Linked DNA regions of Homo sapiens: all the other regions are linked to region 3. Evidence: fine-mapped expression QTL. A gene starts in region 3. Each other region holds a variant in brackets. All regions are shown on one strand. Distances are between the middles of the regions. Region 1 overlaps SF3A1 (splicing factor 3a subunit 1). Region 2 has its middle 4.9 kb from the start of MTFP1. Region 3 holds the start of CCDC157 (coiled-coil domain containing 157).

The links. PIP is the estimated chance that this variant, and not a neighbour inherited with it, causes the effect. A credible set is the group of variants that fine-mapping cannot tell apart.
Region 1: its variant is the best candidate, but not a certain one, in a credible set for the expression of CCDC157 in whole blood (INTERVAL, PIP 0.50).
Region 2: its variant is the best candidate, but not a certain one, in a credible set for the expression of CCDC157 in monocytes after LPS (Quach 2016, PIP 0.55).

What each region holds. Positions count from the first base shown.
Region 1 is chr22:30,329,436-30,332,250 of GRCh38, reverse strand. It overlaps SF3A1 (splicing factor 3a subunit 1), which reads left to right. Exons shown (of 16, transcript NM_005877.6): 16 at 1-263. Among named protein-coding and RNA genes, the nearest start is that of TBC1D10A, 3.9 kb to the right of the region's middle. The variant G/C (reference allele first, on the strand shown) is at 1,414.
Region 2 is chr22:30,429,249-30,432,092 of GRCh38, reverse strand. No RefSeq gene overlaps it. Among named protein-coding and RNA genes, the nearest start is that of MTFP1, 4.9 kb to the right of the region's middle. The variant C/T (reference allele first, on the strand shown) is at 1,280.
Region 3 is chr22:30,355,722-30,358,221 of GRCh38, reverse strand. It overlaps CCDC157 (coiled-coil domain containing 157), which reads right to left and starts at 1,215. Exons shown (of 12, transcript NM_001017437.5): 1 at 1,090-1,215. It overlaps SF3A1 (splicing factor 3a subunit 1), which reads left to right and starts at 1,328. Exons shown (of 16, transcript NM_005877.6): 1 at 1,328-1,492. The coding sequence starts at 1,430. RefSeq lists an enhancer at 1-446 and a silencer at 1,382-1,631.

The DNA.
Region 1 (2,815 bases), 26 kb after region 3:
CTTAGAGGAGGCCAGTAATGATCAGAACCATTTTACTTTAAAATTAATAATATTGTATTAGAGAATATATTAAATGGTTATATTGGGTTATGTTAGGATATATACTTGAATGGAAATACATGTACTATTAGCAATCATATTTCATTTATCCCTGTAATTAGACAAGAAAGCATAATATAGCTCTACTCATGGGTACACATACCAGTGTATAAGATTTTTAGAAGTTTACTTTTTAAAAATAAAAGCAAAATGTAAGATCTTAAGAGTTATGATCATTAACTCTACCAGATATGGAGATTTGCTGTTAACTATTCTGTATTGTTACATTTTTTTAATTCTGCATTGTTGCCAGGTGTAGTGGCTCACACCTGTAATCCCAGCACTTTGGGAGGCCGAGGCGGGCGGATCACCTGAGGTCGCGAGTTCAAGACCAGCCTGACCAACATGGAGAAACCCTGTCTCTACTAAAAATACAAAATTAGCCGGGCATGGTGGCACATGCCTGTAATCCCAGCTACTTGGGAGGCTGAGGCAGGAGGATCGCTTGAACCCAGGAGGTGGAGGTTGTGGTGAGCTGAGATAGCACCATTGCACTCCAGCCTGGGCAACAAGATTGAAACTCTGTCTAAAAAAAAAAAAAAAGGCTGCATTGTTATATAAAAGAACACTGCCTGGTGAGTTCCCTGACACCATGCCCTGACACTGCTCCCAGCATGTAAGTGAACAATTCTAGGTACCCCTGGACACTACAGTCCATGAAGCAGGACAAGATAAACTCCTGCCAGGCACAGTGACACACCTGTAGTTCCAGCTGCTTGGGAGGTTGAGGTAAGAGGATTGCTTGAGCCAGGAAGTTCAAAGTCAGCTTAGACAACATAGTGAGAACTCATCTCTAAAAAAGTTTTTTTAAATTAAAATTAAAATAGATCATTACAGAGAATACTGTTATAACAGGTGGCAGGTGCCTGTAATCCCAGCTACTTGGGAGGCTGAGGCAGGAGAATCTCTTGAACCCGGGAGGTGGAGGTTGCAGTGAGCCAGGATCACACCACTGCACTCCAGCCTGGGCAACAGAGCAAGACTCCGTCTCAAAAAAAAAAAAAAAAAAAAAAAGGGCATCTGGACTTTTGCTCATGGCCAGTGCTCACAGGTTTCCTGAGCACATGCCAACTGCACATTCCAGGATCCAGGAGAGGGGCCTATGTGAGATCCTCAAGCCCAGCTGTTGGGAATGACCCCAGCAGGATGAGACTCTGGGATATCAACACATTCTATCTTCAAAAGAATGTCTCCAACAGCCAGTTCACCAGGATGTTCCACAGCATTGCCTAAGGCCTCTTAAATTCTTTATTCCAGTGAACCACGTGATTCTGCAGGGCTCCTTTCTGATCATTTATTCATTGGTTCACTGTT[G/C]CCCTTGCTTTCTCACTCCAATCTAACAACACAGCCTCCTTCTCCTTCAAGGGGAAAATCATCTGCTGCCATGCTTGTACACTATTCTCAGTCCTGCAGAAGGGGTCCCTCATTTTCAGCCCATACCACCTCCCCAACACCTACTCCAGCATTCTCCATACCTTACCTGGCTTTATTTTCTTATTCTCACTACCTGATAGATGTTCTGTGCTTGTTCATGTTGTCCCTCCTCCACTGGACTATAAACTCTATTGGGCCAGGACTTCATCTCTCTTATTCACTAGAGCAAGCTCGTCCAACCCATGGCCCAGGAGAGCTTTGAATGTGGCCCAACACAAATTTGTAAACTTTCTCTTTTTTTTTTTTAGACAGAGTCTTGCTCTTTCGCCCAGGCTGGAGTGCAGTGGCGCCATCTCGGCTCACTGCAAGCTCCACCTCCCGGGTTCACGCCATTCTCCTGCCTCAGCCTCCCGAGTAGCTGGGACTACAGGCTCCTGCCACCACGCCCGGCTAATTTTTTGTATTTTTAGTAGAGACGGGGTTTCACCGTGTTAGCCAGGATGGTCTCGATCTCCTGACCTCATGATCCGCCCTCCTCGGCCTCCCAAAGTGCTGGGATTATAGGCATGAGCCGCGCCCGGCCCCAAATTTGTAAACTTCCTTAAAACATTATGAGATTTTTTTTTGCAATGTTTTTTAACTCATCAGCTATATCGTTAGTGTATTTTATGTATGGCCTAAGACAATTCTTCTTCCGGTGTGGCCCAGGGAAGCCGAAAGGTTGGACACCCCTGCACTAATGTCTGGCTCATTATAGGTGTATTAAATAAAGAACTCTGGAGTTTGGCCAGGCATGGAGGCTCACGCCTGTAATCCCAACAATTTGGGAGGCCAAGGCGGGAAGATCACTTGAGCCCAGGAGTTCAAGACCATCCTAGGCCACATAGTAAGACCTAATCTCTACAAAAAAATACAAAAGTTAGCAATTTCACACAAGGACACCCAGTTGTTGAGGGGCACAGCCACGAAGTGAAGTCTCCCAAGCCACGTGCCATAGGTTAAATTGGGCAAACTCCCCCGCTGCAGCCACAGGCTGTGATGGGGAACACTCAAGACAATAATGAATTTGCAATTCCTTTTGCAAGCTTCAAATGCCACCACTCCTGGCCATTATTTATTTATTTATTTATTTATTTATTTTGAGATGGAGTCTTGTCTGTCACCCAGGCTGGAGTGGTGTGATCTCTGCTCACTGCAACCTCTGCCTCCCAGGTTCCAGCGATTCTCCTGCCTCAGCCTCCTGAGTAGCTGTGATTACAGGCGCCTGCCACCACGCCCAGCTAATTTTTGAATTTTTAATAGAGACGGGGTTTCACCACGTTGGCCAGGCTGGTCTCGAACT
Region 2 (2,844 bases), 74 kb before region 3:
AATTTCCTGCTAGGCCTCATTCGAGGTCCCTGTCTTGCTTAAATGCCTATTCTGGCAGGGCTCGGTGGCTCACACCTGTAATCCCAGCACTTTGGAAGGCCGAGGTGGGAGGATCGCTTGAGCCCAGGAGCTGGAGACCAGCCTAGGCAACATAGCGAGATCTAGTCTCTGCAAAAAAAAAAAAAAAAAAAAAAAAATCAAAAAATTATCCAGGCACACGCCTGTGGTCCCAGCTACTTGGGAGGCTGAGATGTGAGAATCACTTGAGCCTGAGAGGTAAAGACTACAGTAAGCCATAATTGCACCGCTGCACTCCAGCCTGGGCAACAGAGCGAGACCCTGTCTCAAGGAAAAAAAAAGCCAATTCTGCTTTGAAGAATGATGTGCTGAGTTGCATCTGGTGGTAGACAGTGGGGTCTTCCCTTCTGTGAGCCTCAGTGTCTTCATGTGGAATATGGGAATGATGGTTTTATCTCCTCACGGGGCTGTTGAGGATGCAAGAAACAAATGCACGTAAAGGGCACGTACAAACACACAGATGCTAAATGGCAAATCTGCATCAAATCCTTAGCTACTGAATTCTGCAGAGATACAGGGCTCTGCATCTTTGAGAGAAAAACTCACACTCGGAGAGGCTGTGACTTGCAAATCAGTATGATCTGATTCTACCCTTCTTTCCAGCCCAGACACCCCAGCTCTTCTCCCCCGAATCTCCCGGGTACTCCCTGGCTCTTGGCAGCCTTGTCCTCGTGAGCCTCCAACAGCCCCCTCACCAGTTGGATGAAGCCATAAGCTTTGAATGGGGCAGTGAAGACCTCATAGCCAGGTATGGCAGGGACTGGGGAGGGCAGGCAGGTGCCAAGGCACAGGTGGCAAGCATCCACCTGGGGCTCCTTCCTCACTGCCAGGAGGACATCTGTCTGATTACAGTCCTGCAGGAGGCTGTCTCCTGGCAATCCAGCCCAGGCTAGCTCAGGCGGAGAACCAGACTCAGCGAGAACATGGCCAGCAGAGGGTGCCCAAAAACCTCCCCCAGCATCCCCCACCTTCAATTAATTCCCTGCATCTCCAGAATGGAGCAGGGAGCTGGGCACAGTGACTCACGCTTGCAATCCCCGCATTTTGGGAGGCTAAGGTGGGCAGATCAGTTGAGGTCAGGAATTTAAGACCAGCCTGGCCAACATGGTGAAACCCCGTCTCTACTAAAAATACAAAAATTAGCTGGACATGGTGGCATGCACCTCTAGTCCCAGCTACTTGGGACACTGAGGCAGGAGAA[C/T]TGCTTGAACCCGGGAGGCAGAGGTTGCAGTAAGACAAGTTTGTGCCACTGCACTCCAGCCTGGGTGACAGAGCGAGACTCAGTCTCAAAATGATAATAATAATAATAAATGGAGCAGGGTAAAATGTTGGGGGGTTGTGGAGATGGTGGTGTTTCCCCCTACAGACAGGATGTCCACCGACCTCATCCCTATCAGCCTGGCCTGGGAGTGCCTCAAAGCCCCTTCTGTGAGCACCTACTATGTGCCAGGCATCTGCAAACTTGCACCCCGGTATTTCCTCACAAGTTACCACCAACGGGGCAGTCAAGGGCAGAGGTGGCCCACAGTAAGGCATAGTAAGGGGCAACAACAGAAGGGGCACTGGAGCTGGTTCTGAAGGGTGCTCATAGCTGGCCAAGAGGAAAAGGATTTGCAGCTGAGGAACAGTGTGTTGTGAGGAAAGGCATAGAGGCACAGGAGGGCAGGTGATGGGGAGAAGGACAAGGCTGGGCGCTTAGGCCCATGAGCACAAAGCCTATATGTGGCCTGCACAGATCCCAGCTTGAGGGAGAGCCTGCAGAGTGGAAAGTGGAGAGTGAGTGAGCAAGGAATTGGTGGTAGATGCCAGGAGATGTCACAGGGATGCAGGTGTGAATGTACCCCGCATGGGGCTGTGACTGCCGGGGGAGAAGATGAGCTGGGAAAATGCTGGGCTGGAGAAGGATGTGAGTGCCAGCTCAGACAGGGAATGGGGGGTGGGGTCGGGGGCTAGAGAACAAGGCGGGGCTTAAAGCCTTTAAGGGAGCTGGGAGGGAGTGACAGGTGACTGGGCAGAGGCCATAGGGGCTTGGGAAGGGGACCTTGCCAGTGTGGGACAATAAGAGTAGCAGAGAAAGGCTCAGCCCACATCAGACTCATCCTGTAGCCATGGATACCCCCAGAGCAGCAGGGGCCACCACCCCGGAGCCCCCATCCTGTCTTGCTGGCAGCACCCCTACCCAGCCCTGCAGCCCCTTTAAGTCCCAGCCCAGGTGCAGGTGAGTCCCACCAGGACAGGGTCAGCCTACCTGACTGCACCTGGGCTGCAAGGGATGGGGCCAGGGTCTTGGTGGGAGCTGATTTGGTGCTTGGGGCAGGGCTGAGAGGGGCCCAGGTCTGCTTCAGCCCTGTGCTCCCACCTCTCTACCTCTCTGAGCTGTTGAGGGGGATGGCCCAGGATCAGAGGAATGGCCCCCTCTAGCACTCTCGAGCCCAGCAGCTCAGGGGAAGCCACAAGGAAAACAGGCCATTCCCTGATTCTGAGTGTAAGAAGCCCCCTGGTCACTTCCTTCTCCAGGCTGCCGAGTCCCCTCATGAGGAGGTCTCATGTGACCCTCATATGGGGCTGACACCACCATCTTGGCCACCTTCAGGCTCAGGTGGTATCTGCCCAACAGGCTCCCCTCCCAGAGGGGTTGGTGCTTTAGGAGGCTAGAAAAAGAGGGCAATGCCAGGCTGAGTGCAGTGGCTCATTCCTATAATCCCAGCAGTTTGGGATGCTGAGGTGGGAGGATTGCTTGAGCCCAGGCATTCAAGGCCAGCCTGG
Region 3 (2,500 bases):
TGTGTGGGGGGAGGGGGAAGACTTGAGAGAGCAACCTTTCCTATCACTCCCTCATTTCACAGGTGAGGAAACTGAAGTCCAGGAACAGGTTCGGAGCCAGCTCCCCGCTTTCCAGAGTTGAGGAGAGGAGGAAGGAGAGAGGGGGGAATCGCAGGAGAGGGAGAGAAGCCGGCGGGATTCGAGGTAGGCCTCTGGGGAGCGAGCCGCATAGCTTGCAGGGCTGCATCTGTGAGAGTGAGGGGTGAAGCCTAAAGCAGCAGCCCTGCGTGATGGCTCATGCGTGTAATCCCAGCACTTTGGGAGGCCAAGGCGGGAGGATCGCTTGACCCCAGGAGTTTGAGACCAGCCTGGGCAACATAGGGAGACGTCCTCCCATGTCCCTACAAAAAAAAAAATTTAAAAACTGGCCGGGCGCGGTGGCTCACGCCTGTAACCCTAACACTTTGGGAAGCCGAGGCGGGCGGATCATTTGAGGTCAGGAGTTCCAGACCAGCCTGGCCAGCATGGTGAAACCCCGTCTCTACTAAAAATGCCAAAAAAAAAAAAAAAAAAATTAGCCGGGTGTGGTGGGCGCCTGTAGTCCCAGCCACTCGGGAGGCTGAGGCAGGAGAATCGCTTGAACTCGGGAGGCGGAGGTTGCAGAGAGTCAAGATCGCGCCACTGCACTCCAGCCTGGGTGACAGAGCAAGACCTTGTCTCAGAAAAAAAGAAAAAAGAAAGACAAAGAAAGCAGCAGCCTTGATTTGAGAGGGAGGCCCCCAGTGGGGCTTGAGGGCGGGACTACGGAAGGCAGGGGATGGAAGCAAGAAAAGGCAGGTTCCGTGGGAAAAGCGAATTAAGGGCGTAGGATTTGGAAGCGGGGCTTGGAGGATGTGGGTCTGAAATGAAAGGGGGGACTAAGGGAGTAGGGAAGTGGGGCTCTTAGGCGGTGAGCCTGAGGGGACAGGGGCTCTCCTAAATGAGAGACCAATGGGAGGGAGCTGGGCTCTTGGAAGGCGGGGTCGAAGGGAGCGAGGTACTGGCCTGTGGAGTAAAGGAGCCGCGAGGTGAGTGCGGCGGGGGTCCGGCGGGTGACGTACAACATCTCACCTGTCTTCGGCGTCGCGGCTTCAGCCTTCGTGTCTGGTCGGCTCCCGGAACTGCCCCCGGTGCGCCTGCGGCCACCGGGATCCCCGAAAAGCCCTAGCCGGGCGCTCAGGCCGCTGCCTTGGCAACGGCGTCGGACGCCGCGGTGCCCGCGGGGAGGGGCGGGAAGCGCGTCACGGCGAGGGGACGGTCCCGGAAGTGCGCCAGTCGTACCTTCGCGGCCGCAACTCGCTCGGCCGCCGCCATCTTGCGAGCTCGTCGTACTGACCGAGCGGGGAGGCTGTCTTGAGGCGGCACCGCTCACCGACACCGAGGCGGACTGGCAGCCCTGAGCGTCGCAGTCATGCCGGCCGGACCCGTGCAGGCGGTGCCCCCGCCGCCGCCCGTGCCCACGGAGCCCAAACAGGTACCTCTCCCCCGCCCCTCAGCCTGCAGCCGGAGGGTTGGCCTGGGCGCTCCTTACTCGCACAGGAATAAGCGGCCGGCCGCTATGAAGGGCTTGGAGGGACTGCAAGTCCCAAGAGGCTGCGCGCTTCCCGCGCTATGGTGGTGTTCTGGTAGCGAAATGAGCCACCCTGAACGGGATTCTCTAAGTGGTCCGCGGAGCAGCCCCGTCGGCACGAGCCGGGAGCTTCTTAGAAATGTGGAGTCTCCGCCGTAGATCTTTTAAATAGGAATCTACATTTGAACAAAATCCTAAGGTGATTGATTTATAAGTGCGAGAGGCGCTGATCCAGCCCATCCTCTGATCTTATGTAGCAGTTGGGGCCGCCGGCCACAGCCTTTCCCCAGTAATGGCTAATTTCCCAGCCTGCACGGTACATCTTTGGATGTTAATTCTCAGCATCTATTTCGGTGTCTGCCCCAAGCCAGACACCGTGCCAGGCTCCCACATTACCGGAATGAATGGGGCATGGTCCCTGCCTAGGGAGCTCACAGGCTAACGAGAAGACAGACATATGAGAATGCTCACCAAATGTTTGTTGTCCCAATGGCCATCGATGATACAGTGCCAGCCCGCCCTTAATAAAGCTCTCCAATCTCGAATGTGCACAAACCATTGTAGTATGGTGTGATATGCCCTGTGATAGAAGTTTCAGGTACAAATCTAATGAACATTGTTTGCTGGGCTAGAAGGGATATTAAGGTAGGGAAGCCCACAAGAGTGAGAGGTAAATTTCTTTTAGAAGAAGGAATAGGAGTTTGCCAGGTAGGTGACTAGGGAAGGGAAATAGCATCCTTTATTCATCCAGCAAATATTTATTGAACACATACGCTGATCATTGCTTTGGGTTCAGAATAAGGGGGGCGGGGGGGGGGAACATGACTGAAGAAGCCATGCCTTTTCCACAAATATTTAAGTGCCCGTGTGTCCCTGGCATTTTCCCAGGCATTGGGGGAAAATAAGGTAATA